Linked DNA regions of Homo sapiens: region 1 is linked to region 2. The links come from fine-mapping of genetic effects on gene expression. A gene starts in region 2. The other region holds a variant in brackets. All regions are shown on one strand. Distances are between the middles of the regions.

Region 1 (16,336 bases), 34 kb after region 2:
TTGATAATTTTTTTATTGGTCAGAATTTTGAGAAGGGAGCCAGAGAAAAGATACTTTTCCTTCTAATTAGCATTTTTGTTTTTTAGCAGTTTTACTTTTACAGATGAATAATTGATTAGCAAACTAAGTGCTTTTCTTCTGATCTCCCACCGTAAACTTTGTACTGCTAATAAAATAAATATTTGGCTCCTAGTTCTGGAGCTGGGAAGTCCAAGGGCATGGCATTGGTGTCTGTCTGGCACCTGGTGGGGGCCTCGTTGCTGCATCATTGGCAGAAGGCACAAGGGGAAGAGAGCACAAGAGCCAACAGAGGGCCAAACTCACTTTTTTATAACTCACTGGTGATAAGGGACCTTCTCCCAAGATAACAACATTAGGCCTAATCACTTCTTAAGAGTCTCTCCTCTTTGAACTACAAACCACTGCTCAACAAAATAAAAGAGGATACCAACAAATGGAAGAACATTCCATGCTCATGGATAGGAAGAATCAATATCATGAAAATGGCCATACTGCCCAAGGTAATTTATAGATTCAATGCCATCCCCATCAAGCTACCAGTGGCTTTCTTCACAGAATTGGAAAAAACTACTTTAAAGTTCATATGGAACCAAAAAAGAGCCCACATTGCCAAGACAATCCTAAGCCAAAAGAACAAAGCTGGAGTCACGCTACCTGACTTCAAACTATACTACAAGGCTACAGTAACCAAAACAGCATGGTACTGGTACCAAAACAGAGATAGAGACCAATGGAACAGAACAGAGCCCTCAGATATAATACCACACATCTATAACCATCTGTTCTTTGACAAACCTGACAAAAACAAGAAATAGGGAAAGGATTCCCTATTTAATAAATGGTGCTGGGAAAACTGGCTAGCATATGCAGAAAGCTGAAACTGGATCCCTTCCTGACACCTTATACAAAAATTAATTCAAGATGGATTAAAGACTTAAATGTTAGGCCTAAAACCATAAAAACCCTAGAAGAAAACCTAGGCAATACCATTCAGGACATAGGCATGGACAAGGACTTCATATCTAAAACACCAAAAGCAATGGCAACAAAAGCCAAAATTGACAGGTGGGATCTAGTTAAACTAAAGAGCTTCTGCACAGCAAAAGAAACTACCATCAGAGTGAACAGGCAACCTACAGAATGGGAGAAAATTTTTGCAATCTACCCATCTGACAAAGGGCTAATATCCAGAATCTACAAAGACCTTAAACAAATTTACAAGAAAAAAACCCCATCAACAAGTGGGCAAAGGATATGAACAGATGCTTCTCAAAAGAAGACATTTATGTAGCCTAAAGGCACATTAAAAAATGCTTATCATCACTGGCCATCAGAGAAATGCAAATCAAAACCACAATGAGATACCATCTCATACCAGTTAGAATGGCGATCATTAAAAAGTCAGGAAACGATAGGTGCTGGAGAGGATGTGGAGAAATAGGAACACTTTTACACTGTTGATGGGACTGTAAACTAGTTCAACCATTGTGGAAGACAGTGTGGCTATTCCTCAAGGATCTAGAACTAGAAATACCATTTGACCCAGCCATCCCATAACTGGGTATATACCCGAAGGATTATAAATCATGCTGATGTAAAGACACATGCACACATATGTTTATTGCAGCACTATTCACAATAGCAAAGACTTGGAACCAACCCAAATGTCCAACAATGATAGACTGGATTAAGAAAATGTGGCACATATACGCTATGGAATACTATGCAGCCATAAAAAAGGATGAGTTCATGTCCTTTGCAGGGACATGGATGAAGCTGGAAACCATCATTCTTAGCAAACTATCGCAAGGACAGAAAACCAAACACCACATGTTCTCACTCACAGGTGGGAATTGAACAATGAGAACACTTGGACACAGGATGGGGAACATCACACACCGGGGCCTGTCGTGGGGTGGCGGTAGTGGGGAGGGATAGCATTAGGAGATATACCCAATGTTAATGACGAGTTAATGGGTGCAGCACACCAACATGACACATGTATACATATGTAACAAACCTGCACGTTGTGCACATGTACCCTATAACTTAAAGCATAATAATAATAAAACAGTGAAAAAAAAGTCTCTCCTCTTTAAACCATTACAGTGGCAATTAAGTTTCGACATGAGTTTTAGAGGGAACATTCAAACCATAGAACCCTGGAACGAGTGATTTATTATTGAAGCACTCTTTTTTCCTAGGGCAATTTAGTAGCCCTTTTGGTTGATTAAAAAACACTTAATGAGTATAATCACTGGTTTAAGGATTGTCTAATCTGTCCTGATAAGTAAGTGATATGCTGAACAGCAGCTTTTTATTTTCCTTGGAAAATATTGCAGGATAATAGCCCTAAAGACTTTAACCTTTCTTATTTGAGCTAGTCCCATCTCTTCTTAGAGTTGGCAAGTAAATGCTTCTCTGATTTAGTGTGCCGGACACTGTTCCTTATTCCACCAGTAGAGGAAATGGCAGTAACTGGAATAAAAGCCCTCTAAGGCTGCCTACCTGACATTCTCTAACATGCTGCAGTTTTGGAGACCTAAGCTATATAAAACTCAACGTGTTTTCCTTTTGAGTTAATCTTTTTAGGAAGTCTTCCTGTGTTGAATCATGAAAAAATTGCTATTCGGGCTCTTTTAAACTTTGTTTTTCTTTTTCTAGAATCAATGCTATAAAGGAGATAACAGCTCGATGTCCTCTGGCCATGACTGAAGAACTTCTCCAAGACCTGGCTCAGTATAAAACACACAAGGATAAGAGTAAGCTGCATGTTACTCTCTACACACCAAAGAGTACAGTGTGACTCCTTTTTACCTCATTGTACTCTATGGGCCAGAATTTCTAATTAAAAGTATTATTTTACAGATGTAATGATGTCTGCTAGAACTTTGATTCACCTCTTCCGAACACTGAATCCTCAGATGCTGCAGAAGAAATTCCGGGTAGGTAAAGCACACTTATGTTGGTCTAAAGGTTATGGTCTCACAAACTGAGAGAAATTTCCTACAATTAGGATTTTAGTACTTATGATGCTTCTGTTATGATTACATGGTTATGATGCACACGGTTGTATTCTTTAAGCTTGGAATCAAATACCATGGCCCTGAATATTTTATAGTTGGCACATATTCATTGATGATGACTGTGTCTTGAAGACCTATCAGGCTGTTTCAGCTTGAAAGCTTTTAATGTTATTAACAGATCGGAATCTCAAAGATCAGTCAGTAGCTGATGCCAGTTTTGTGAACAGGCTATTGCACAGCCAGATACTACCTCTTTCAAGTTGGAAGGGAGGAGGGATGCATGTATGTAACAGAAAGAGAGATGACGTTTTTCAAGACTTAAAAAATTAGAGCAGTTACTCTCTAATAACTACCAGTGTCTTGATCTAGATCAAAACACAACAAGAAAATAGTGGACAGATTGCTGGCTGGGGATTTATTTTGACCTGAGACATAAGCAAACTGTTGCTGTCATTTGGTTACCAGCATTTTTTATAGTGCTCCCTTTTAAATTCATAATTTTGTTAGCTGGGTGTGGTGGTGCGTGCCTGTAGTCCCAACTACTAGGGAGGCTGAGGTGGGTGGATCCCTTGAGCCCAGGAGGCGGAGGTTGTAGTGAGCTGAGATTGTACCACTGCACTCCAGTCTGGGCAACAGAGCAAGACCCTGTCTTCAAATAAATAAATAAAATAAATTCATAATTTCAGAGACTACCTTTCATGATTAAGGTTTTATGATCTAAGCAACTTATTACAAACAATTTCTTTTCCTTTAGGGTAAGCCTACAGAGGCCTCCATAGAAGCAAGAGTACAAGAATATGGAGAATTAGATGCTAAAGATTACATTCCAGGAGCAGAAGTTCTGGAAGTTGAGAAAGAAGAGAATGCTGAAAATGATGAAGGTTGATTTTTATTTCACCCTTATTTTGGGCAAAACACTCCTGCAGTATCTGTGCAGACCTTTAAATTGTATACTATTTGAACATTCATTCAGCAGATATTTATTGAGCAATGACTATGTGCCACGCACTGTTAGAAGTATGGGGGATCAATTGAGCATGGTTCCTCCTCTTGCGGAACTTATGTTCTAGCATAGGAAATGCCTTTTCATGACCTTCGGGGTGGCTGCCGCTCATCCAAGGGCATGCTGTTTGGTGCTTGAGAAAGACAATGATCTTGTGTTTGTTGCCTAGAAAAAATTACGGGGGTTAGCCCTTAGAGGAATCCCCCAAAATTCTCCTTGTTGAAGGAGAATGCATGTTGAATTTGTGGGCAAATACTCGAGGAACTCCATTCTAATTTCCAGAGTCGTGTATTCTTCCTGTCCATTCATTCATTATTCAGCAAATCTTTTTTTTTTTTCCTCACGTTGGAGTCTCGCTCTTGCCCAGGCTGGAGTGCAGTGGTACGATCTCAGCTCACTGCAACCTCCATCTCCCAGGTTCAAGCGATCCTCCTGCCTCGGCATCTTGAGTAGCTGGGATTACAGGCGTGTGCAGCCATGCCTGACTTATTTTTTTATTTTTAGTAGAGATAGGGTTTCACCATGTTGGCCAGGCTGGTCTTGAACCCCTAACCTCAGGTGATCCTCCCATTTTGGCCTCCCAAAGTGCTGGGATTACAGGCGTGAGCCAGTGCACCCAGCCTATTTGATCAAAGCCCTCTTAAGCATTTGTTGTGAGCCAGCCACTGCCAATGCAAAGATGAATGGTATTATTTCTGCTCTAGAGGGCTTCCAAAGGGCTGAAGAATGAAGTGTTAACAGGATTTATGATTGGAGTGGGTGGGGGCATAAGGGCAGGAGAGCAGTCAGGTCCACCTCGGAAGTTTTTTTTTAGGTTTTTTTTTTTTTTTTTTTTTTTTTTTTTTTGAGACAGAGTCTTGCTGTGTCGCCCAGGCTGGAGTACAGTGGCGTGATCTCGGCTCACGGCAAGCTCCACCTCCTGGGTTCACGCCATTCTCCTACCTCAGCCTCCCGAATAGCTGGGACTACAGGCGCCCGCCACCACACCTAGCTAATTTTTTGTATTTTTTAGTAGAGACGGGGTTTCACCGTTTTAGCTAGGATGGTCTCAATCTCCTGACCTTGTGATCCGCCCGCCTCAGCCTCCCAAAGGGCTGGGATTACAGGCGTGAGCCACTGCACCCGGCCTTTTTTTTTTTTTTTTTAAAGGGCTTTGGAGAGATGGTGACTGATGAGCCAGGTATTTGGCAAGGAATGCTAGAATAGCAGAGACTTTCCAGGCAAAGTGTGAGCAAAGTCTTGAAGGATTTAGGGAACTAACTATTAGAATGTAGGATACAAGATGGAACATAGAAAGACAGGAGGCTTGAGATAGAGTTTGGTGACCTTTTCATACTTGGTTATGTATATGCCAGACAAAAGAGCTGGCACGTTCTCTTAAAGATCATAGGGAGTCATGGAAAGATTGCAGTGTCTGTGATTTAGAAAATTTAAACTGTGGTGGCTCCATTAAGAAGCCTGATACCTTTTTATTGAGGTGTCTTCAGGATTCTTTAACATCCCAAATATTCTACCTCAGTTGTCTGAATGACTAACTAGATTCTCATACGTGGGTAACACGCATAGGACAAATTAGATGCCTGCTGCGTGGCCAGGATAAATGTACAAGTGCAGTTTTGATGGACACAGTTGGTTTAGTTGAAAGAACATGACCCTAAAGGTAGACATGATTTTCATGATTTCAGTGTAGGATGCCTTTTTAGCGGTGTGGCTTGGGGCACATTACTAAACTCTGAGCATCTGTTCCTTTTCTTTGGAGTTATGAGGGTTAGAGAGAGTGATTGTAAGGTTTTGACTCATGGTAGATACTTGATCAGTGCCTATTTCCTATTCCTTAGATTAACTAAAGGCACATTGTTTATTTAACAATAAATATTGCTCAGTTCTTGGTTAATAATGTATCTGTTCAAGGTTCATTACTTTTCTGTTGCTTGCTTCATCTCAACTTTATGTTGAATGTGCAACATAAAATGGCAGTAGTGGGTTTGCTTTTTTCACGCAGATGGATGGGAAAGTACCAGTCTCAGTGAGGAGGAGGATGCTGATGGTGAATGGATTGATGTGCAACACTCTTCCGATGAAGAACAGCAAGAAATCGTAAGTCTGAAAATTTCATCTTATAACCTGGTGTTTATTAAGACGTAATTTATTCTGGGCCTTGTTGGGAGGCTACAATTTAAATGGCTGAGCTCTCACTTGAGCTGGTAGCCATTTAAGCCCTTGTGTGGTTTCAAGTCCAAGAAGCTGAACAGCATGCCCATGGAGGAGCGGAAGGCCAAAGCTGCAGCCATCAGCACTAGCCGAGTTTTAACTCAGGAAGACTTCCAGAAAATCCGCATGGCCCAAATGAGAAAAGAACTTGATGCTGCCCCCGGGAAATCCCAGAAGAGGAAATACATTGAAATAGACAGTGATGAAGAGCCCAGGTAAAATGGCACATCCACTTTAGTACTTCAGTCAGCTCATGTGGTAATGAAAGCATCAGGAAACAGAATTCCATTCTTGTTTCATGTGTTATTTTTCCCTCACCCCAGGGGTGAATTACTTTCTCTTCGGGACATTGAACGCCTTCATAAAAAGCCAAAGTCTGACAAAGAGACAAGACTAGCAACTGCAATGGTGAGTGAGCATATCATTCCTAGTTTTTTAAACAGAAAGCAAATAAAATGAAACATAAGCCAGAACTTGTATAGCCACAGAATGGCAATTTTTAAAAATGTTTTAAATAAAGGTATAATTAACACAGAAATTAAAATGCACAGATATTAGATGTTCAGTTAGATGAGGGGTTTTGTTTGGGTTTGCTTTTGTTAGTATGTTTGTTTGTTTGTTTTTTGCGACAGTCTCTCTCTGTCACCCAGGCTGTAGTGCAGTGGCACAATCTCAGCTCACTGCAACCTCTGCCTCCTAGGTTCAAGCGATTCTCCTGCTTCAGCCTCCTAAGTAGCTGGGGTAACAGGTGTCTGCTACCACGCCCAGCTAATTTTTGTATTTTTAGTAGAGTCAAGGTTTCGCCATGTTGGCCAGGCTGGTCTCAAACTCCTGGCCTCATGCGATCCACCCGCCTCAGCCTCCCAAAGTGCTGGGAGTATAGGCATGAGCCATTGCGCCCAGCCAGTTAGATGAGTTTTGACAACTGTATATAGCCATGTAACCACCACTCAAAACAAGGTAGAGAGCACAGGAAGGCAGTATTACATGTCTGTATTGTCAGGAAGCCACTATATTTATCAAAGCTAAGAGAAAAGTAGGAATGTGTTTACAGTCACCAGTGAAAAGCCAGAGCCAGTTGGAGTCTGCCTGTGGCTAGTGCTGTGGCTGCTCATGTCTGTGTCCTGCCTACATTTCCAACATCATTTTCTGTATCTCCACTTGTTTGAGACACTGTCCCCTCCTAGTTCCACCTCATCCTCTGTCTTCCATGTGTCCTTTCTCCTCCACACCTTTGTGTGCACTGTCCCTTCTTCCGGAAATGCTCTGTCTTTCCCCTCCTTTCCCTTACCATGAATGCCTTCATCCTGCAAAAAAAAAAAAAACAAAAAAAAAACAGTCTACCTGTCTCCCTTTCTAGGAAGTTCCCCTGACCTCACCAGGCTAAATTATGACTTTTCTTCCACCGAGCTCCCCTTGCTCTGTTATAATACTGTATGGCCATTTCTTGGTCCCAAGGAGCAAAGACTGTGTCCTGTCCATT[C/T]TGTGCCCTTGGCACCTAGTAGAGCTTCTGACACAGAGGAGACATTAATGTTGATTAGATGACTCCTAAAGTATGTTGTTGAAGAAGAAATATCAAACTTTTTGTTCTGGTAGGCTGGAAAGACAGACCGAAAAGAATTTGTGAGGAAGAAAACCAAAACAAATCCATTTTCCAGTTCGACAAATAAAGAGAAGAAAAAACAGAAGAACTTTATGATGATGCGGTATAGCCAGAATGTCCGGTCAAAAAATAAGCGTTCCTTCCGAGAAAAACAGGTGAGTTCCACTTGAAGCTTGGGTGGCAAGAACAGCACTGTAATTCCAAGACAGCTTTACATTTGAGACGGACTTGCGCCTTCTGAAGACTGGGCATTATTGTGTGTGTCTTGGGAGCATTGTTGGAGAGCATTGTTGGAGAGTTCCCATTAATGGGAGCATTGCTGGAGAGCATGGAGAGGTGAGAAGGATTCAGGGTATGTAAATCCCAGACCTGACTTGATTGAGACTCAGCTGTGGGACCAGAGGGGAATCCATTTTCCTCCAGTATAAGTAAAGGAATGCAAGCTAGATCATCCATGAGGTTCCTTCCCATGCTAAAATTCTCTGACATTTGATCTGTGAAATATAATATCAAAATTAATTGAATAACTTTTTAGTGCCAATTTTATGCCTGGTTTTCTGAGACAGGGTCTCACTCTGCTATCCAGGCTGGAGTGCAGTGGTGCAGTCACAACTCACTGCAGCCTCATGGCTCACTGCAGCCTCGACCTCCCAGGCTCCAGTGATTATTGCGGGATCTGGCCAGCAGCCCGCAATGCAACGGGGCTCTTTCTTTGTTCCCAAGTGGAAAGGCAGGTGGAGAAATAAAAGACACACACAAGATAGTGAAAGTTGGGTCCAGGGGGGTCACCGCCTTCTGGTCCTGCGATGCTGCCAATGCACTGGATATACCACCATTTATTATTAAGTTTAGTGAGAGTGGGCGTAGGTTAGTGAGGGATTTAGGGTCGTTTGATTATGAGGTGAGATGGTCACATGGGGATGAAGTAATTCTTTAACATAACATTGGTATGCAGAAGTACAGTATACAGAGATAAGAATTTACAATATAGTGTGTGCATCAGCAATTTCTAACAGAGCCTTAAAACAGAAACACAGTCTATCCATAACCTACGTTTAGCAAGATATTAATCAGCAGTAACAGTTGCAGCAAAAACTGGTTGTAAACAATCAATAGAAACAGGACGTGAAGCTAGACAACTGGTTAGACCACAAATTCTCAGAAGGTAGTATGCCTTACTCTTGAAGAGACCTACAAGAGCCGTGGCAAGATAAGGGCGTTTATAACCCTATCTTATCCATATGGACAGGCGCCCCTCATGCATCCATTTATAGGCTCTCCACAAGGGTCACATTCCATTCCCAGAGCTATGAACATCTGCTTTTCTGGGATAGGAATCTTGGTGATGTGAAACCTCCCTGACTGCACGTCCGTTCATAGGCTCTCTGCAGGGGGAAGCACATCATGTGCTGTTGGCTCATTCTGGCAGCCCAACCTGGCATTGTTTTTACACAATCTTGCATGCAATTTTGTATTTACAATAATGAGGAGCATTTCATCTTTTATTCTGTAGCAATAGATTCAGGGGGTCTCCCTACAAGTGATCCTCCCACCTCAGCCCTCCAAGTAGCTGGGACTACAGGCGTCTGCCACCACACCCGGCTAATTTTTGTATTTTTTGTAGAGATGGGGTTTTGCCATGTTGCCCAGTCTGGTTTCAAACTGCTGGACTCAAGCAGTCTGTCCACCTCAGCCTCCCATAGCGCTAGGATTATAGGTGTGGGTACTTTTCTCTTTTTTTTTTTTTTGAGACAGAGTCTCGCTCTGTCACCCAGGCTGGAGTGCAGTGGCGCAATCTCAGCTCACTGCAAGCTCTGCCTCCCGGGTTCACGGCATTCTCCTGCCTCCACCTCCCAAGTAGCTGGGACTACAGGTGCCCGCCACCACGCCTGGCTAATTTTTTTGTATTTTTAGTAGAGACGGAGTTTCACCGTGTTAGCCAGGATGGTCTTGATCTCCTGACCTCGTGATCTGCCTGCCTCGGTCTCCCAAAGTGCTGGGATTACAGGCGTGAGCTACTACCGCGCCTGGCCCCAGGCGTGGGTACTTTTCAAAACCCAATAATTTTGTGTGGTGATATCTCAGAAACAGTTTCAGAAAAGCAATGCAAAATAAATAGTGTGTTGGCATGATCCTTCCTGTATGTGCCCTTTTGAAAGCCCTGATGTTTACAGGCTTTGGGATTACATTTTATCCATTCATGGCCTTTGAATGGTAATCCCATGCTACTTAGGCAGCTCATTTATTTCAGTTATTCATTGTGATAAAACAAGTTTATGCTTTTGTATCTTTCTCTCCTTGTGGTGTAGCAGTGTATCTAAATATCATTCTGAAGAATTGCCAGGATATCAGCTCTGGGTTAAACAGTCTCATATTGTGAATCAGTGTTCCTAAATAGCTAGCCAAGGATCAGCCTGCCAGCACTGAATGTAACGGCCAGCCCTCTAGGGCAGTGCTGTGTCTGTGGGTTCCAAGTCAGTATTCACTGAATTAAGGTACCATTTAGCTCTCCCTGTTGACTCTTTCTAGTTCTAAACTGTGTTCAACAACATCATTTAAATAATGACGGCATTTTTAATAGAAGCTGTTGAAACTGAGGTGAAAGGAAAGGTGCCACTTAGGATTTTAAGTACTCTAAATTTTGCCACATTCTCCTAAAATTATAATAGGATTGACTTAAATCCATTAGTCTGTCCTTCACTGGCCCTTAACTAACATTTCAGGGTTGAGGAAGTATTAATTACCCTGTTGGTAGGCCTTGTTTCATTATAAGGTTTCTGTGAGCTTGTTATATTTTAGTTAGGGCTCCCCCCACCCCTACTTCCTTTGTTTTTTAGCATGCCTTTTCTGGCATGAAGGGAAAGCCCAGCTTTGTTCCTTTCAAGCACCTCGAGTCATAAAATAACTCTCAAAGATTGAAGAATCTTTTTGAGAGTAAATTAAGATTTCATTGGACATATGCACTTGTTGGTTCAAGAATGTTTTTTCTTGTTCTCCAATTTTCTTGTCATTTGGAACCTGATATTAATCAGAATTTCTATGTGTGTCCCTTTGCCCTGTATTTTCTTCAAGATCTCTTCATTATAAACATAAACTTTTAAGTTCCTGATTTTCTCTGTTCTCCCCTTTAGACCAGTACTGTTCAATAGAAATATAATATGAACCACATATATCACTTAAAAATAAACAAGTAAAAAAAGAGGAAATTGTAACAATATATCTTATTTAACCCAGTATATCTAAAATAGTATTGTTTCAACATGTAGTTCAACATATAAAAATTATGAGTGAAATATTGTACATTTTTGTTTCTGAGCTAATTGAAATCAGCATGTCGTTAACACTGCAGCACATCTCAATTTGGACTAGCCACATTTCAAATGCTCAGTAGTCACATGTAGTTAGTGGCTACCCTATTGGACACAACAGTTACAGAGCATCCCCAAAACTGCCCTGTGACCCCAAGGGCCCTGTGAGAAAGGAGCATCACACTTCACACACCCCCCTACCCTTTGGTGATATTTCAGTGTCTTAAATAAAGGAATCTTACCTGGCTTGAAAGTGTACATGAGGTCTTACTGTAAATTGTTAGAATATGAAGAGGTGACTGGGATGAGACTAGAAGAGGGAAGTAAAGCATACGATAGGGAAGGAGAGGAGGATCTTGCAGTAAAGCCTGTAGAAAGATAAAAGAAGAAAAGGGGGATATACCTGTTCCTTTTCTTTAATTGGTGGCATTTGAAGGGGAAGGAACTGAAATATGTGTGAGAGTAGGCTGTGCTTTGCTACAAAGCTTAATGAGTGGAAGTAAATTCCCATAACCAACATTAGCTAACACATTTAGTTCTTAGCATGAGACTTCACTATTCCAGGGCTTTCCATTTATTAACTTGTTTAATCAGTATACAACAGTATGTGCAGTTACTGTGATTAAACCAATTTTGCAGATGAGGAAAATAAGATAGAATTAGATGAATCTGGAAAATACCTCCTTAGCCAAATTAAGTTGAAATGAACTTACAGATTTTTGTTCTGCCTTAAGTATCCCAGCTCTTCTGCTTTTCTGCAAAGACATACCAAGACCCAGGTGTGAGTTAAAGGCAAAGAGTCAACTGGAAATCATAAAATCCAAAAAGTTTGAACATTTGTATGTAGAGCCAGGTAACTTCTACCCCGAAACTGTTTTAGGTGTATCTTGTTAAAATTTAAGCTAGAATTTTAAAATAAAAATTAAATAAAAGCTAGAGATTTTTAAAAGTTTCTAGGACAAAGAATAGTACTTGGGAATTAATGGAATAGTATCCATCACAAACTTAAGATGTATACATTGGTCTTGGTTAACTTTAATTTTGGTTTATTTTTGATCATCTTTAATACTATGTTTGCTTTCTTTTGACATGTAAAACTTTATAAGGGCTTTTGTAGGTTTGCGTCAGACACTGATCCTTCAGTCTTCTTTTTCTCTAGATGTTAAATTCTTCACCTTCCAGTTCTACCCTGGGGATCTTGAAGAACCCAGCCTCTGGTTAGAGACAAACTCCAGGAGATGAAAGCCTAGACTGAGTCTCATTATGATATACAATTCACTGCTTTCATTCTTCATGTTCACTTTACATACTTCCAACACAAAATAATTAAACAAGTTAAAAATTAGAGCCTGTATTAACTAGAATAAATATTTTGCCATAAGCTACAATTGTCAGGGCTTCAATTTCTGAGTTAATATCTTCATGTTTGAGCCATTATAAAGGGTTAGTGTTAGCATATACTTAGAACATTTTCTTAGTAAGGTATCACTTTTCTTTGTTTCAGATTTTATATTGATAGAGTTATCATAAATCTACACAAGTGCTGAATGCCATTATAAAATCTTTGAGTGATCCATACATGCCATATTTAGTGGAATATATGTGATATTGGGAAAGGTGATTGATTATGAAGAAAAATCTGTTTTCCTGTTACTTTTAATTTAGACAATGTATTCCATCCACAACTCCAAAATATTAAGAGCCACATAGACCAAATAAGTATTATTTATTATCCCTGGAGACAGGGATAATAAATAGTAGTCTCTGCATTCCATAGCTGCTCCTGTTTTGAGCTTATGCCTCCATGAGTTGGGAACAGCAGTCAAGAGTTTTGCATATTTCCTAGCAGTAATATGCCCCATCCTCGATTCAGATGTGATCTGTTTTGGAATATTTTATCATTTATAGTTTTTCAGGATGGTGTATTGACTTGGTGATTCCTTTTTAGTAAACTTTCATGTAACCAAATTCGTATAATAGGGTACCCAAGAGTTATCATGTTTCAATACTTTTTTATCTTACAGTTGGCACTACGAGATGCACTTTTGAAAAAGAGAAAAAGAATGAAGTAACTTCCTGGCAAGTTTTCCATTCCTAGAAGAATGCTAAGTTTGTGTCCTTGCTCTGAAAATTGGTAAATCAAGCATGTTTGTTTACATTAAAAAGTCCAGACACACTGTATTGTGAAAACTGCTGAACATGTGGCAGCAATTTTGTGTTTTTATTTTGGAGACGGCTAATGGTAGGAATGTTAATGTAAATAGTGGTGGTAATGTAAAATCATTTCATTTATCATTCATGCAAAAAAAAGTATGTATTGAGTGCCTATTCATTGTCACTGTAGATGCAAAACGAATGAGCTGTAACCCCTTCACTCAAGGCATTGACAGCTTAGCTGTGAGGGTGGACACACATATGTGTATTTACAGTGCAGTGTAAATAGTTCTGTAGTAGAGGTTAACTCCATATTTCTGTGAGGTCACTGAGGCCTTATGGACTAACTCTGTGAGGATAGGAGTTATATATTCTTATAAGACAAAACAAAACAGGACAATGTTACAAGAGTAAGAGGTTCTTACTTGTACATAGGCTTTCCTGCTGAAAACAGGCCCCTGCTGTACAGATTTTGGGTACATAATTTAGCTCTTTTAGTCAATCCAAGAGATTTAAGTGACCCCCCCCCCCCCGTGTTTTTTTTGTTTTTGTTTTTGTTTTGAATGCCATGTAAAGGCTTTTTGGTTAAGACCTCACTTTTAAAACTGCCTTAAGTATAAATAGTACCTTTGGAATATATTTAGTTCATCATTTGAGCTGCCTTCATACTGGTTTCCTCAGCCTTCCTTCAGCCTGTAATATTTTCAGCCCACTGTTTACCTTGTCTCAATAAAAGGTTTCTAATGCCAAATACGTACCTTTGTATGTGGAGTGGTGTGTGGTGTTCTACGTTCCACAGGCGTGCTACATCCATTTCAGGGGACAGTCTGTTTGCATGCAATTTTTTGCATTTGGAAATAGTTTGGTGCCTTTTGCTTCAGCTTTCTCAGATAATGTTGTGGTAGATGTTACCTCAAGTTAGAGTAAAGGGCAATTTTCTGCACTCAGAAAGCATTTTCTTTTTTATTTATTTATTTGTTTTTTTTTTTTTTTGAAACGAAGTTCACTCTTGTTGCCAAGGCTGGAGTGCAATGGCACGATCTTGGCTCACCACAACCTCCGCCTCCCAGGTTCAAGCGATTCTCCTGCCTCAGCCTCCCAAGTAGCTGGGATTATAGGCATGCGCCACCACGCCTGGCTAATTTTGTATTTTTGTTTTAGTAGAGACGGGCTTTCTCCCGACGTGAGGTGATCCCAGAGTGCTGGGATTACAGGCATGAGCCACTGCGCCTGGCCTAGAAAGCAGTTTCTAAAACCAGTGTTCTTATTTCCTTTCCAGTTTCTTCTGTTCACTTTCTACATTCAACTTCAGTTTTATTTCAATGAGACTTAGAGACTTTCCCTAAAATGCCCCAGATTGCTGTTGGGGGATTAGTCAAGTCACCAGAGTCAAGCCCCAGCAACTACAGTGCTTTACAGGAAGTGTTCGATGCAAATTTGTATATTTTAGACCGGAAACTGCTCCTTTTTTTTTTTTTTTTCGCATTTTTGAACTGGGTGTCTCCTCCTGTGTCTGGATCCAGAAAGTGAAAAAAATTCAATTCAAAATAGCAACAAGTTTTTATAGCTTTATTGTGTGAATTGTGATGGCGCCTGGAAGTTTCATCCTTCCTCTAGATTTTCCCACTCAGATACCAAGAGACCAAAGTCCATTCTGTGTTCTGACTTCTGTTCTTCTACTGTGCCCTCACCCTCTTCTTAACTAGCCTTTCTTACATGCAAGACAGAAAGATACAGTATGTGGTTTATAAATGCATATTCTGAACTTTTATTTCTTTAATCCCATAGTATCTTATTTCTATCTGATTCCTTTTATTGTTTTCCAAATCTTCTCTTGAGAATATTTTGTTTGCTATCCATTTGAAGATGAGATTCTCAGAAGGGTGAATGCTTCATTAGAGGGTAGGTGAGCTTGCAAGGTGAATTCTACTTTGAAGAAGTCATCAGTGTCTGAACTTGAGCTATTTAGTCTCAAATTTTGTCAACATAGAGAATGAAGCCATTCAGGGATGAACTTAACTTTGTCCAGGCTCATAATGTATAAAAGTGGTATATAAATCCAGAATGCTGATATATTAGCTATATGATCTCAGCAAGTGACCATGGTTAATATAAATGTTATTTCTTCAAAGTCTAATCCTTTGAAAATTTACTCTGTATAGACTTGCATTGCAACTCCATTTCAACTAGAATGTTTACTCAGAATATTCTGTTCTTTAAACTATTTTAGATAACACATTTTAAAACCATATATAGATAATATAGTTCTACCAAGTGACAGTCTTTCATCAATTGCTTATGTTCTTTTGAAATGTACTTTATGAGATTTTTTAAAAGATCTTAAATATGAATAAAAATATAGGACAATGACTTGTAGCCTTTTCTCTTACAAGGTCAAGGCTCTAGAAAGAACCTTTCCAATATTAGCAGAGTCTTTGGTCTGCACGTGTTTACAAATGCAAATAAAAGCAGAGAACACAGCTAATTTTGTACTCCTTAAATAGCATAAGCTTATATTTGTATAGACCATTTCTTAGGTAGTAAACTTATTTCCTTCTGTAGATTCTGCTTTCATGTTTTGTCAGTCCAATCCCAGTGTGAAGATGGTTGAATAAAACTATCATTTATCCACATGATAGAGTATTATGCAGCCATTATTATAATAAGCATTTCCCATTGTAAACATTTCCAGTGTTTACAATGTCTTTTGTTCTTTTCAAAACAGGCTGTTCCTGTTCTTTTCTGCCAAGGCAGGCAGATCACCTTGTTCTTTTCCAGCCCAGGCTGGAGAGCACTGGAACAATCTCAGCTCACTGCAACCTCTGCCTCCTGGATTCAAGCAATTCTCCTGCCTCAGCCTCCTGAGTAGCTGGGACTACAGGTGCCCGCCACCACACCCAGCTGATTTTTGTATTTTTAGTAGAGACAGGGCTTCACCATGTTGGCCAAGCTGGTCTCGAACTCCTGACCTCAAGTGATCCACCCTTCTCAGCCTCCCAAAGTGCTGGGA
Region 2 (16,336 bases):
TACCACATGTACAAATTTAGGTTTCTCGACCATGGAAACTTTGTCTTCCCCACTACTGCATGCCTAGAGCAGTGCCTGGCACTTAGGAAGCTCCTAATATGTATTTTTTAGTTGATTGACATATACTTCACCCTAAATTTTCATTTTAGGCCTTTTCCAAATCAATTTCAACTACTCTTGTCATGTTCATCTCATGCTCATTTCTGCCCTCGCATTGCTCATTCTTTTATTCGCCCTGTCCTACTTTCCAACTCATCTGACTCCCACCTACACATGATTCAAGTCCCACTTTTCCCATGACTCCATCCCAGAATCCTCCTGGCCACACTGATATCCACCTCCATGCCCTGTCATAAAATGACTTTAACTAGTAAGGATTGTTCTATGATTAAAATCTTCAATTATTTTGCTATACTAGAAAGCAGTCTGTGCCTGAACAAATTTTATACATTAGAGCAATGGATAAAAGACTCAGACGTATTTAATCTGTAAACTATTCTTATGAATTTAAATGCTAGTGGCCAGGTACCATGGCTCACGCCTGTAATCCCAGCCAAGGTGGCTGGATCACTTGGGGTCAGGAGTTTGAGACCAGCCTGGCCAACATAGTGAAACCCTGTCTCTACTCAAAATACAAAAATTAGCTGGGCGTGGTGGCACACGCCAGTAATCTCCACTACTTGAGAGGCTGAGGCACAAGAATCGTTTGAACCCAGGAGGCGGAGTTTGCAGTGAGCTGAGATCGTGCCACTGCTCTCCAGCCTGGGCAACAGAGTGAGACTCTGTCTCAAAATAAATTAAATAAATAAATAAATAAATAAATGCTAGCGATCTCTAGGTCAGTTAACTGGGAGGAAGCTATCTGTAGTTGTTTTATCCTTACGGGGAAACTGGAAAGTTGCCTTCTTATTGGAAAGGAAGATAAAGAGAGACTACAATCACAGATACTTTAGGTACTGTCTCGTTTTTGGCCTATATAGACAGGAGATGAAATTAAATGAGAAAGAAAAACAGGCAACACTTCTTAATAGGGAGTGGAATTAGCTCCCAAGTCATCACAAGCCAAGAAGTCACTTGAGGCATTTTGATACCCACATTGGTTTAAAGTTCTCAGGAGGGAACTTTCAACTTTGGACCCTACATTTTAAGGAGATGAATAAATCACAAAGGAACAGTCTAATCTAAGTCCATTAATAAGATTATGAACTGGGGCAAACTGACAAAAGATTAGAGGGAAAGGTGTCAAGTTATACATAACTAGTTGCTTTCTTTAAAAGTCTGCTATACAGATTAAAAAAAAACTCTTCCTTTAGATATAATATACTGTTTCAAGTCAACTGTTTTAATAAAGAATTTGTTTTGCTCAAAGAAAAAAAGAAGGAAGGACTTGCTGGTATCTCCATCTCCAGAAAACTAAATCTTGGCCTCTGCCTTCTGGTAGAGTATAGGACCAAGTAGGTACAGCCATCTACCACCAGCTTTCTTTAACCATTGGAGTAGACAACCTGCATTTCCTCTGGAATGAAGAACTAAAAATCACAATCTATTAGGTAAGAGGATACATGTCAAAATAAACTATATAACAGAGAGGGAAAAAATGTGTTGCTTAGAAAAAGAAATGCCAGCAATCACTTCTGCAATACTGAAAGCCTCAGAATTTACCTCAGGGCAGATGTCTCTTTTGTATGGAGCCTTTGATTAGGGAGAGATGGGCCTAGGACTTTTGATGGTATGGAAGTTAAAGCAAAACTAAGCTAAATTTCTCTGAATAATGGGGAAACAGGGATGATCTCTGCCAGCTAGGGAGAATGTTGGGGACCTTGGATCAGCAAAAAGAGAGGCAGTGGAGGTGGATGAGAAGCGAGGGCCTGTACCAATGACAAAATCTATCAGCCCTGATAGATTTGTCCAGAGGCAAGGCCAAAAGTTTTCGCTGCCCACAGGAGCAAAGAAATACATGGGCTTGTGGGGAAAACTCATAACAAAGCTGTAAAAGAGAGAGAGGAGGAAGAAAGTACAATAAAAGGCCGGGTGCGGTGGCTCACGCCTGTAATCTCAGCACTTGGGGAGGCCAAGGCGGACGGATCACGAGGTCAGGAGATCGAGACCATCCTGGCCAACATGGTGAAACCCCGTCTCTACTAAAACTAGAAAAATTAGCTGGGCGTGGTGGCGCATGCCTGTAATCCTAGCTATTCAGGAGGCTGAGGCAGGAGAATCGCTTGAACCAGAGAGTCGGAGGTTGCAGTGAGCCGAGATCGTGCCACTGCATTCCAGCGTGGCAACAGAGTGAGACTCCGTCTAAAAAAAGAAAGAAAGAAAGAAGAAAGAAAATGCAATAAAAAATTAAATTAGCTTTAAGGACTATAATTCTTTATGAGATTTCTGTTTAGTTTGTGGGCATGTCAAATCATGTAATTTTCCCGTTAACAAGAAAAGCATGAGCTCCCTCTAGTGGCTAATCTAACAGTTTTTTTAAACAATAGGCCAAACATCGCAGCTCCCACCTGTAATCCCAACATTTTGAGAGGCTGAGGCGGGAGGATCACTTGAGCCCAGAAGTTTGAGACCAGCCCAGGCAACATAGCCAGACCCACCCACCCGGTCCCTCATTTCTACAAAAAAATTTAAAAATTAACCAGGCATGGTGGTGCACACCTATAGTCCCAGCCACTTGGGAGACTGAAGCAGGAGGATAGTTTGAACCCAGGAGGCTGAGGTTACAGTAAGCCATGATTGTGCCACTGAACTCCAGCCTGAGTGACACAGCAAGACCCTGTCTCAAATAATAATAATAATAAAACAATATATTTTAATCAGAAAAGGATGAAGACATGACTGGCTTTTCCGAACACAGTCAATATCATTGGTTTCTAATGAGAAAGGTAATAACAAGGATTCACACGTTAGTCACTTACTGATTTTCAGGTAAATTTTATCTGCGTTTGTCCAAGATATTTTAAGTTCCTGCTTTAATAAATCACACAGTTGAAGAATTGGAAGTCATTAGAGATTATCCATGCATTCATTCATTCATTCAACAAATATTAACTGATTACCTATTATATGCATGCATTGCTCCAAGTGTACAGGATAGACAATGAACAAAACAGTCTTCATTAAGCTCATATTCTAGTGCATAAAGACAGGCAATAAACAACTAAACTAGTAAGTATACGATATATCAGAGACGGATAAGGGCTTTGGAGAAAATGAAGCAGGGGAAGGGAGTGTGGGGTGAGCAGAGGGCTGTGAGGTCAGGGAAGACATCTCTAATAAGTTGTCATTTGAGCAGAGACTTGACAATGAGAGAGCAAGGCTTGTGGCACTTGAATCAGAGGAAACAGCAAGTGTGAAGGCCTGAAGTTTGACACATTTAAGGCAGCTAGGGGATCATTGCAGGGTTGAAGGGGCGCAGAGTAAGCAAAGGGGAGAGTGATGGGAGAGGAGCCCAGTGAGATAGTGTGGGGTCAGATCATATAAGGTTTTGGGCTGCTATAACAAATTACCACAGACTCGATGACTTCAACAACAAACATTTATTCCTCACAGTTCTGGAGGCTGGCAAGTCCAAAATCTAGGTGCCAGCAGATCTAGTATCTTAGTATTTGATGAGGCACTCTTCTTGATTTGCAAACAGATGTTTTCTCGTATCCTCACATGGCAGAGATCAGAGAGAAAGGAGGTAAGCTTTCTTGTGTCTCTTCTTACAAGGATGATAATCTCATCATGAGGACTCCACCTTCATGAACTAATTACCTCCTAATACCATCCCATTGGGGGTTAGGGTTTCAACATATGAATTTGGCGGGACACAATCATGCAGTTCATAACAGCCTTCTATGCCACTGAAGAACTTCAGCTTTTACTCTGAGTGAGAAGGGAAGTTGGAAGAATAACCTGATCCATTTAAGGCTCTCTCTGACCACTACATGGAAATACAGTGTAAGAGGGTAAGGGAAAATGCAGAGAGACCAGTTAAAGGTCAGTTACCAAGTATGTTTCCAGGAGAAGGGAGAGACCAACTGTGTCCAATGCTGCAGGTTAAGTTAAATAATGAAAATTGATGTGATTGGTGATCTTGATAAAAAACAGTTTCAGTGGAATGGTAGAAGCAAAAGATTGATCGGCAGTTTCTTAAAAGTTACACGTAAACCTATCATATTGATCCAGTTATTCTATTCCTAGACATTTACCAAGATATTTATGTCCACATAGAGACTTGATGGCACGACATGGTGGCTCAAGCCTGTAATCCCAACACTTTGAGAGGCCAAGGCGGGAGGATCACTTGAGGCCAGGAATTCAAGACCAGCCTGGACAACATAGTGAGACCCTGTCTTTTATATATATATATATATTTTTTTTTTTTTTTTTTTTTTTTTTTGAGACGGAGTCTTGCTCTGTCACCAAGGTTGGAGTGCAGTGGTGCGATCTTGGCTCACTGCAACCTCCACCTCCTGGGTTCAACCGACTCCCCTGCCTCAGCCTCCTGAGTAGCTGGGACTACAGGTGCGCGCCACCACGCCCGGCTAATTTTTTGTATTTTTTAGCAGAGACGGAGTTTCACCATGTTGGCCAGGATGATCTCGATCTCCTGACCTCGTGACCCGCCGCCTCGGCCTCCCAAAGTGCTGGGATTACAGGCGTGAGCCACTGAGCCCAGCCAAAAATATATTTTTTTAAATTAGCTGGGCATGGTGGCACACCACCTGTAGTCCCAGCTACTAGGGAGGCTGAGTTTAGGAGTTCAAGGCTGCAGTGAGCTATGATCATGCCACTGCACTCCACCCTTGGTGACAGAGCAACACCCTATCTCTTAAAAAGAGACTTGAACATGAATGTTCACAGCCAAAACTGGAAACAACCCAAATATCCAGCAACTAGTGAATGGATAAACAAATTGCAATATGTCTATATGATGGAATACTACTCAGGAATAAAAGGAGTGAACTATTGATACATACAACACCATGGATACATTTCAAAATAATTATGCTAAGTGAAAGAACCTTGACCTCAAATAATAGGTACTGTATGATTCCATTTGTATACAATTCCAGCAAACACAGACATATCTTTGGTGACAGAAAGCAGATGTGTGTTTGTCTGGGGATGATGAGGCACAAGGAACGTTTGGGGATGATGGATATAGTCATTATTTTGATTGTGATGATGGTTTTATGGGTACATACATATGTCAAAACTTATCAAATTGTTCACTGGGTAGTTTGTTGTACATCAATTATATCTTAATAAAGCTATAAAATAAATACATTATAATTTTAAAAATAAAGGATGGAATTTCACATGAAAGCAGAGATGTTGGCCTTAGATACCCAAATTATTTAACATCTGAAAAATATATATTCAGTTAGCCACTCTTAGTCTTAGAGTTCTCATTTATCAAAAACAAATCCTGCCTTCCATGCTGCTGGAGGTAAAATGAACTGACCTATATGCCCTCCTTAGAATAGCAATTAAAGCCTTTCATATCAGGACAATATAACCTTCTCAGCTCTTTCCCTGCTGCACCCTGCCCTCCCAGCCTTTAGTCACACCAAACTTATGGCTATTGTTTCAATACACCAGACATTTTCAAGTACCTGTACGCAGTCTTTTTTCTTTTTTTTTTTTTTTTGAGACAGGGTCTCACTGTATTGCCCAGGCTGGTGTGCAGTGCTTCACTGCAACCTTAACCTCCTGGGCTCAAGCAACCCTTTTGCTTCAGCCTCCTCAGTAGCTTGGACCACAAGCCTGTGCCACCATGCCTGGCTGATTTTTCAACTTTTTGGTAGAGATGGGGTCTCACTATATTGCCCAGGCTAGTCTTGAACTACCCAGCTCAAGTGGTTCTCCCACCTTGGCTTCCCAAAGTTCTGGGATTACAGGCTTGAGCTACCACACTTAGCCAGATTTTGTTTTGAGAATACTTTTTTTGCCCTCACTAAAACAACCTAGCCAAAAAATTTTAATTTAAATCTATGCTTTTTAAAAAAGATTTATTGCTGACATTTATTTCTTAACTTCACAGGTAACTGATTTGATAATTAATAAATAAGTCATTCTCCAAAAGCAGCTGAATAACATGGTTTGTGAAGCATTCTTTATTTTGTGTGCAGGTGTGATTACAGAGTTGTTTTGTTTGGGGCTCATTTTATCATCGTCACAGATGAGGTTGGCGTTCTATAAAATTGCTTTGGTTAAGCAGAACCCTATTGTCTGGCTATTTTGCCAGACCAGCAACCAGCTACCAGCTGTTAGGCTATGTTTTTTCTCATGTAGTTACAATCAAGACTGTCTAGATTGAAATCTCATCTTCCTCACAGGCTATGAATTGAGGCAGTCAACTTCCCTGAGCTTGTTTCCTCTTCTGTAAAATGTAGATAACAATAGCACCTATTTTAGAGGGTTGTTCTGAGGATTAAATAAGTTAATACAAGTGCTTGGAATAGTGCCTGGCACAGGGTGGGTAATTAGGTTTTTTTTTCTCTCTCTCTAATTCACAACACCCTACCTCATTCATTCAACCCTTATTGATTTTTTACACCTTGAGATTGTAGAAATGTATTCTCCTCTTCGAATTACCAGGATCTGAATTAAAAACTCTGACTGAGGAGTGCTTACAAAGCTTATAACGATGGTTGAATTTTAACGATTAATTGCATTTATTAATGGTCAACATGATCACATTTTATCCAGCCCTCTTTTCCCTTGTATGGGTCACGCTAAGTTGAAACAACCAAAACCAAAATAAAAACATATCTAAAATCATACACATTAACTTATATGACCCTCGTTGCTCTTTTTTCCTCCTAAGAGGGAATAGTGTTATCTAGCGCCACGGTTCTTTTCAGTTTTGTTTTGTTTTGTTTTGTTTTTTATACGGAGTTTCGCTCTTGTTGCCCAGGCTGGAGTGAAATGGTGCAATCTCGGCTTACCGCAATCTCCGCCTCCTGTGTTCAAGCGATTCTCCTGCCTCAGCCTCCCTAGTAGCTGGGATTACAGGCATGCGCCACCACGCTCGACTAATTTTGTAATTTTAGTAGAGACGGGGTTTCTCCATGTGGATCAGGCCGGTCTCGAACTCCCGACCTCAGGCCCGCCTTGGCCTCCCAAAGTGCTGGGATTACAGGCGTCAGTTTCTAATTTTAGACTGCGGGATTAAAAATAAACGATTAATCCTCATTTATGTGCTTCATATGGGTGTCGGAATGACGATACATGCTAACACACGTGAAAAAATTTACATTTCAGATCCTTTCAGAAACGCAAGGCAATATTAAGTAGTAGCATATGCCCAAGGGCGAGGGGCGGGTCGGCGGTGGCTGGCTCTCCAATACACCACAGAGTATTTTGGCAACGAGAGTAATTTTGACACTCTGAGGCTTCCGTAGCATAGCTCGCTTTAGGAACCGCTAAGGTGTCGCCTGCCTAGAGTCCCATGCGCTATTTCCGGTCATACCCGGAAACACGAGTCCAAGCTGCAGCTGGCAGGGATTGCGGGGTGCCGGCCGTCTGAGTTTTTTTAAAACTGCTCGCCGCGAAGTCTGTCTGCAGCCAAAATGTCCAACAGAAACAACAACAAGCTTCCCAGCAACCTGCCGCAGTTACAGAATCTAATCAAGCGAGACCCGCCGGCCTACATCGAGGAGGTGGGAGTGCGGCGCGGCAGACGCTAGAGGCCGGATAGTGGATGGTTGAGACGCCGGTGCGGGAAAGCATGGAGTGGGGCTGGGATCCAGGCTCGCCGCCTATTCTTCTGTTAGGTTCAGGGGTCCCTCCAGAGGAGAGAAGGGGTTGGGGACGGGACATGCCTTAGGGTTCGTTCCCCACCTCTTGAAAATCTGTTGCCCCTTTGGATTTTCTACCTGCCCTGCTGCCGCTGAAACACCTTTAAAACCTCATTTTGTTTTAAGATATTTTTCTTCGTCCGCACGGAAGTGGAGAGAGAAATGGGCCGCACCCAACCACCAACTTCCACGCGGATTTCTCAGCCTCTTTTCAGAAATCCCAAACTTGAATTAGTCGGTAACCTTTGATGAATCGTATGTTAGAATGCTTTCGATTGACGTCCGTTTCTGAGAGCAGGCTGTGTACCCTGGACTGTGCCAGGAAAGGGGGGGGGGGGGTTTCTCAAGCACAACGGACAGACTCGGGAGCTTAGTATATTTAGTTAAGCCAGGATTCAAACTTACCGGAGACTGGCATGACTCGGATGTCAGAATTTGCTTCGGGAAAAGATTAGGTTGAAAAATTAGGCCCTCATTGTGATGGGCTTTGTGTACTGACCTCATGTAAGTTGTGAACATTAGGGGTGTTTGAACCAAGTACCGACAAAACGAAAGTGGTTTTTGATATATTAATCTGACAGGTGCTTCCTTCAGACACTCATTTATCAGACGGGCATTAAACAGGTATCTCTGCTAGGCATTTGCTGCAATTACATGTTTGTGCTTCTACCAGATTGTGATTTGTTCAGTGGCTAACACAATTACTTATTTTTTCATTGCCCTTCTCACTTCCCTCCTCCCCTAAATTTTCACATATATGTATTTTATGAGTGCTTTTTAACACATGGCAATCTCAGTGGCTTAGGTCACCAGTAGAGAAAGCCTCTCCAAGGATCAAGGTAGTGGAAATAAAGAGTAGGAAACAAGTACAAGAAGTTAAGTAACATAGGCAAGGCTTTGAGATGCTTAAAGCATTGTATAGCCATTCGCAAAGAAAGTGGTAAGTTGAGAGTCTATATAATTCCGTTAGATAACTCCTGCTGCTGACTGTTGTTAACCAGTTGTGTAACCGAAGCAGGTTAATCGCTGAGCCTATGTGGGTATTTTAATATGTAAGAAGGGGGTAATAACTACTTCTTTAATTCACTTAAGTATATATGCAAAATCACATATAACTACTGTGTGTTGTTATTCTAGGTAGGCGTTGGGGTACAGTAATGAATAAGACAGATAAGAAAGCATTCTTCTCTTGGACTTACATTCAAGTGAGTGTAGACTTATTATGGTAGAGATTATGAAGAAAATAAAACTGGATGGGAATAGGTTAGAATTGGAGGCTTCTGATTTAGACCCCGTAAACAGGGAAGGTGGCTCTGCAATGATGATATTGAGCCAGGCAGGTAAACATCATTTTAGGTACAAGGAATAGAAAGTGCAGAAGCTACTGGTGGAAAAAAAGCAGAGAAGAAGCCAGTGTAGCTAAAGTGTAGTCAGCATAGAAGAGGGCAGTGGAAGATGATGTAGGAAATGCAGGCAGGGGTCAGCTTATTCAGAGCCTCTTAGGCCCTGTTAACGAGTTTAGATTTCACTCTGAGTGCCTCGGGGAGTGATTGAAGAGTTTTAAGCAGGAGAGTGACATGATCTGACATATTTTTTTTAAGAATTTACTCTGGAAGTTACATGTGGAATGGCTTGTAGAGGAGCAACACTGGAAGCAGGGTAACTAATATAATGGATCTCAGAATAACCAAGCAAGGGATTGTGGTGTCATTGGAATTATGGGCAAAGATTCGTGCTGTTCTACGTGGAGGTAGAGCTAGTAGAGCCTTGGGATTTCTGGTGGAGTGGATGTGGGGGATAAGGAAAAAAGAAGGAATGAAGGATCACCCAGGTTTTTTATTTATATGTCTAGGTAGATGATAGTGCCATTTCCTGAAGTTCGTTCATTTGACAAATACTGTTGATTACCTGCTATATGTAAGGCACAATGCTGGGCCCTGGGACTACATAATATTGAGCTGTACCGATAAAAATTCTATGCTCATTAAATGACATTCTAGTAGGGGGTGATATACAGTAACAAATAATATAGTATGTTAAATAATGAAAAGTGCTGTGAAAAAAAGACAATAGGAAAGTACTTATGTATGTTGGGGGTGAGATGGGTATTGCAGTTTTAAATTGGATAGTTAGGGAAGGTCTTCTTGAGATAGTAATCTTTGAGTGAAAACCTGAAGGACATGAGGGAGAGCTGTGCATATGTTTAGGAAGAATGATCTAGGCAGAAGGAACAGAAGGTATAAAGACCTTGGGGTAGGTATGCCTGGTAGATTTCAGGAACATAAAGGCCAGTGTGGCTCCAAATAGGGAATGAGGAAAGGGGGTGAATTTGGGATTCTACCTCCCAATGAGATGGAAGCCTTTACAGGGTTTTGAGCAGAAGAATACATGAACCACCCTATATGAGAACAAGATCACCGTTACTTGAGGATAGACTGTATGTAGGAGGGCAAAGATAGAAGCAGAGACACCACATAAGAAGCTATTGGAATTATCCACAGCAAGAGATGATGCTGGGTTGAGTGGTGCTAGGATGGTAACAGGAAGTAGTAAGAAGGGTGATTAGATCCTGGATTGGGTAGGTAGAGAAAGCCCTGGGGATTCCCAACATTTAAAGGCCAGTGAGTTTCTAAGTAACTGGAAAAAGGGACTGAGAAAGCAGCCAGTGAAGTTTCGAGGAAAACCAGGAGGTGTTCTGGAAGCCAAGTATAGAAGATGTTCCCAAGGGAGGGAGAACCCAAGCACATCAGATGCTGATGAGTCAAATAAGATGAATACCAAAAGTTGACCACCATTAAATTTAGCAACATGGGGTCGGGCACGGTGGCTCACACCTGTAGTCTCAGCACTTTGGGAGGCCAAGGTGGGTGAATCACCTGAGGTCAGGAGTTCAAGACCAGCCTGACCAACATGGTGAAACCCCATCTCTACTAAAAATACAAAAATTAGCCAGGTGTGGTGGCGGGCACCTGTGATCCCAGCTACTCCAGAGGCTGAGGCAGGAGAATTGCTTGAACCTGGGAGGCGGAGGTTGCAGTGAGCCGAGATCGCGCCACTGCACCCTAGCCTGGGCAACAAGATGAAACTCCATCTCAGAAAAACAAAACAAAAAAAAATTAGCGACATGGATGTCATTGGCTACCCTGATTCATTGAGCAGTTTGGGAAGAGGAATGGGTGCAAAAATCTGATTACAGAAGGTTTAAAAACAATTGGAGTATGATTCTATGTATATGAAATGTATATGAATAGAATATGTCCAGAATAGGTGCATCTATATGGATGGAAAGTAGACTAGTGTTTGCCAGAGCTGAGGGTAAGGGGTATAGGAAATAACTGCTAATGGATTGGGGTTTCTTTTGGTGATGATGAAAAACCTATGGTTGTACAACTTGGTGAATATACTGAAGAACCGAATTGTATACTTTCAAAGGGTAAATTTTATGGTATATGAATTATATCTCAATTTAAAGGATTTTTTGAAAAAGGAGGGCAATTAGGTAACATATGGACAACTCTTTAAAGGACTTTTTCTGAAGAGAGAAATAGAGTAGAAGGTACAGAGTAAAGTGGAATCAAGAAAGGATTTTTTTTTTTAAGACACAGTCTTGCTCTGTTGCCCAGGCCAGAGTTCAGTGGTGTGATCACGGCTCACTGCAGCCTCAACCTCCTGGGCTCAAGCAATCCTCCCGCCTCAGCCTCCAGGGTAGCTGGGACCACAAGTGTGCAACCACCATTCCCAGTTGATTTTTTTGTAGAGATGAGGTCTTGCTAGTTGCCCAGGCTGGTCTCCAAGCTGAAACCATGCAATCTTTCTGCCTCAGCCTCCCAAAGTGCTGGAATTACAGGCATGAGCCACCATGCCCAACCAAGAAAGGTGTTTTTTGTTTTGTTTTGTTTTGTTTTGTTTTTAAGATGGCAGAAAGAACAGCATGTCTATATACTGATGGGGCAGAACCTGTTGAGGCAGGAAATGGGAGGTGGGGACTAGTGAAGCAAAGACCTTGATTGAGTGACATTACAGGGTTTAGAATCTAATGCATAACTGGAGGGGCTAGCCTTAGATGGTGGCCTGATAGCTTTTGTAGTAGGAGAGAAGGTAAAGTATATGGGCACAGGAGAAGATAGGTGGTTAAATGGAAATTATCCTCAGATTGCTTATATTCCTAGTGAAATTGGAGATAAGATCATCTGCTGAGAATGGGGACAGGGAAAAAGTGAGGTTGGAGGACAGATTGCAAAGTATGAAATGGTTGTCCAGAAAAGTGGGAAAGTGAAGGGACTAGAGAAATGTAATGAGATTGCTGGAGTACACGCAGGGCTTAATTGAGGTTTGTAGTTATGAATTTGTGCCTATAGTCCCAGCTAATTGGGAGGCTAGGGCAGTTGGATTGATTAAACCCAGGAGTTTGATGCTGCAGTGAGCCATGATAGCACCACTGCACGGAAACCTGGGCGACAGAGCAGGACCTTGGCTCTAAAAAAAATTAAAATGAAAAAAATAAAATGACACCAATTAGCCGATTTTCTCCAACCATGTTCAGCTCTGGGAGTATAGCTGTAGAGAAGGAAAGCACAGGGTGGGCATTTTACCAAATGGGTATAATGATAAGAGAAATGGGCAAGTGAGTTGAAGTATACGCATGGAGGTGATTATAATGATTGATCATGGAATTGAAGCTGGATGAGAAGGGAAGTTGGCGTGGGGGTTACTTAGGTGCAGTGGAAAGGTAGTAGGCTTAGTGGACTGTGGATTCTGATGAGATTGAAGGATCGTTGGAGTTTGGAAAATAAGAGATGTGGTTGGAGAGGAATATACCTCTAGTTGAGATTATGGAGTTGTAATATAGTTATTGGTAATGACAACATTTAGGGTGTGACCATGGAAGTGAGTGCTAAGATACAGTAAGTTCAAGATGATTAGAGGAGGAGAAGTCAGGGTAATGAGGGGCCAGAGTATTGGGAAGACCCTCCATGTGGATACGAAATCACCAAGTATTATAACAGGAATTGAGATAGAGGGTGAGAAGACAGTGAGCAAAGAGCTGAAATGTTGAAGGAATGTGAGGATAACTCTAGTCTTTAGATGACTACAAGGAGGAATAGTGGGTCTTGTGGCATAAGATTCAAAGCTGGGGGTGAGGACAGTTGAGGAGAAAGGATATTAATCTGGAGGGATATGAGTGCTCTGGAAGTAGCATTGATGAAAAAGGAGGATGCCTACTGACTCATCCATGCTGGGAGAAAGAAACGACGTAGCAGTGTGTCAGGAGAAAACCACTGTTCCCATAGAGCATCTGAATGACTGGGCTGTTTGATTTAGATGCCTTGGCCCCACCCCAAGAGTTTCAGGATTGTAGTGGAATGAGGATTACAGTGAGGAGGATGAGGGATGGCCAGGGAATACTGGGCTCTTGTGGTGACTGATGCACATAAAGGGTGTAATGAGATTAGTCCTGATCATCTCAAGGCGGGTAAATAGTGTTAGCTGGGCCATGGGTGGGGTGGGGGAAGAAATGGGGTGAGGATTTTGTCAGTAGCATAAAGAGTTGTGTAGCCCTCTCCTCACTCCTATTCAGTGGAGGTGTCGGGTCAAGAGAGAAGTGGTTCTATCTGAAGCATGTAGGGACTTGACTTCTGTTCTTAGAAAAAGCCTGGCAGTTTTGTTGAGGAAATCAAGTTGTGTTTTTTGACCATGCTAAGTTTATGATGTCTGTTTAGACACCTAAACAGAGATGTCAGACAGGTGACTGGATATGTGAATTGGGAGTTCACTGGACCAGGTAGGGATGATGAGAAAGAGTGTGTGTGTGTGTGTGTGTGTGTGTGTGTGTGTTTGTGTGTGTGTGTGTATGTCACATAATTTAAAGACATAGACTATGTATGGGTGGAGAGTAGTTAGCTGTAAGGCATGGAACTGTGGAATTGAGGCCTGGTGAATTCCAACATTTGATTATCAGGTGGCTGTTACAACTAAACATAAGTAAGTGAGTTGATGTGCATAAGGAGCTTAGTACATAACAAGTGCTGAATAAGTGGAAGCTATTATTATTTCCATGTGTCTACTGCTATTGGCTGTTAACACATCCTGCCTAGAGCTCTAGCATAAAGTTACTGACACTTAAAAGAAGAGGTAAAAAAAGAGGGGAGCCAGGTGCTATGGCTCACACCTGTAATCCCAGCACTTTGGGAGGCCAGGGTGAGAGGATCACTTGAGGCCAGGCGTTTGAGTCCAGCCTGGGCAACATAAAGAGATCCCGTCTCTACAAAAAATAAAAATGAAAAATCAGCTGGGTATGGTGGTGAACGTCTGTGGTCCCAGCTACTTAGGAGGCTGAGGCAGGAGGACCTCTTGAGCCCAGGAGTTTGAGGTGGCAGTGAGCTATGATTGTGCCACTGCAGTCCAGCTTGGGTGACAGAGGGAGACCTAGTCTTTTTTTTTTTTTTTTAAGGTACCAAAACAGATACATAGACCAATAGAATAGAACAGAGGCTTCAGAAATAACGCCACACATCTACAACCACCTGATCTTTGACAAACCTGACAAAAACAAGCAATGGGGAAAGGATTCCCTATTTAATAAAACGTGTTGGGAAAACTGGCTAGCCATATGCAGAAAGCTGAAACTGGACCCCTTCCTTACACCTTGTACAAAAATTAAATCAAGATGGATTAAAGACTTAAACAAGAGTCCTAAAACCATAAAAACCCTAGAAGAAAACCTAGGCAATACCATTCAGGACATAGGCCCGGGCAAGACTTAATGACTAAAACACCAAAAGCAATGGCAACAAAAGCCAAAATTGACAAATGGGATCTAATTAAACTAAAGAGCTTCTGCACAGCAAAAGAAACTATTATCAGAGTGAATAAGCAACCTACAGAATGGGAGAAAATTTTTGCAATCTATCCATCTGACAAAGGGCTAATAGCCAGAATCTACAAGGAACTTAAACAAATTTACAAGAAAAAAAAAACCCCATCAAAAAGTGGGCAAAGGATATGAACAGACATTTCTCAAAAGAAGACATTTATGCGGCCAACAAACAGTGAAAAAAAGCTCATCAGCACTGGTCATTAGAGAAATGCAAATCAAAACTACAATGAGATACCATCTCACGCCAGTTAGAATGGCAATCATTAAAAAGTCAGGAAACAGCAGATGCTGGAGAGGATGTGGAGAAATAGGAACTCTTTTACACTGTTGGTGGGAGTGTAAATTAGTTTAACCATTGTGGAAGACAGTGTGGCAATTCCTCAAGGATCTAGAACCAGAAATACCATTTGACCCAGCCATCCCATTACTGGGTATATACCCAAAGGATTATAAATCATTCTACTGTAAATACACATGTACACATATGTTTATTGCAGCACTATTCACAATAGCAAAGACTTTGAACCAACCCAAATGCCCATCAATGATAGACTAGATAAAGAAAATATGGCACATATATACCATGGAATACTATGCAGCCATAAAAAAGGATGAGTTCATGTCCTTGCAGGGACATGGATGAAGCTGGAAACCATCATTTTCAGAAAACTATCACAAGGACAGAAAACCAAACACCGCATGTTCTCACTCATAAGTGGGAGTTGAACAGTGAGGACACATGGATACAGGAAGGGGAACATCACACATTGGGGCCTGTTGGGGTGGGGGGCTAGGGGAGGGATAGCATTAGGAGAAATACCTAATGTGGATGACAGGTTGATGGGTGCAGCAAACCACCATGGCACATGTATACCTGTGTAACAAACCTGCACATTCTGCACATGTATACCAGAACTTAAAAGTATAATTTTTAAAAAGGGGTGGCAGTGGGGGGGTGGGATTTTGACTGGAGAGCTTCATGTACTTGAGATATAATTTATATTTCTGCCCTGTTATTTTTCTGCTGATTTGAGTGCTCTGCATACATGGATATGGTAGTAGGGGTCATTTATTTTTATTTTTATTTTGTGAGACAGGGCCTCCGTGTTGCCTAGGCTGGAGTGCAGTGGCATGATCATAGCTCACTGCAGTCTCAACCTCCCTGGGCTCAAGTGATCATCCCATTTCAGCCTGTTGAGTAGCTGGAATTACAGGTGCACGCCACCACACCCTGCTAATTTTTGTATTTTTTGTAGAGACAAGGTCTCCCTGTGTTACCCAGTTTGGTCTCGAACTCCTGGGCTCAAGTGATCCTCCCACTTTGGCCTCCCAAAGTGCTGGGATTACAAGTGTGAGCCACTACACCCAGCAGTCGGGATCATTTAGATAGTAACTGGCAGAACAGGGCTACAATCTGAATTTGGGATTCATGCTTCTCTGTTCTTACACCATGCTGCCTAAACTTGTAGTGATAATTCCAAGGAAAAGTTCTTTAGATTATCTGTGATGTGCTCAGGTCTTTAAAAAGCGCACTTTGAAGAATGCAGATAAGGCAAAAGGAGTGTTTTTATATACTTTTGCATTATCTTTTTCTCCATGTGATCGTCAACAGTTTCTACTAAGAATTTCTCTACTGAATGTCTGTACTGAGAAAGTCATGTAATAC

Evidence for each region. PIP is the estimated chance that this variant, and not a neighbour inherited with it, causes the effect.
Region 1: its variant is fine-mapped to the expression of SDAD1 in whole blood (TOPMed, PIP above 0.99).

The regions. Positions count from the first base shown.
Region 1 is chr4:75,947,658-75,963,993 of GRCh38, reverse strand. SDAD1 (SDA1 domain containing 1) reads left to right here. Exons shown (of 22, transcript NM_018115.4): 15 at 2,686-2,783; 16 at 2,890-2,966; 17 at 3,802-3,928; 18 at 6,053-6,147; 19 at 6,286-6,476; 20 at 6,585-6,669; 21 at 7,858-8,019; 22 at 13,197-14,079. The coding sequence ends at 13,244. Among named protein-coding and RNA genes, the nearest start is that of NAAA, 15 kb to the right of the region's middle. The variant C/T (reference allele first, on the strand shown) is at 7,745.
Region 2 is chr4:75,982,071-75,998,406 of GRCh38, reverse strand. It overlaps SDAD1 (SDA1 domain containing 1), which reads left to right and starts at 7,462. Exons shown (of 22, transcript NM_018115.4): 1 at 7,462-7,655. The coding sequence starts at 7,566. It overlaps SDAD1-AS1 (SDAD1 antisense RNA 1), which reads right to left. Exons shown (of 3, transcript NR_125906.1): 2 at 1,663-2,301.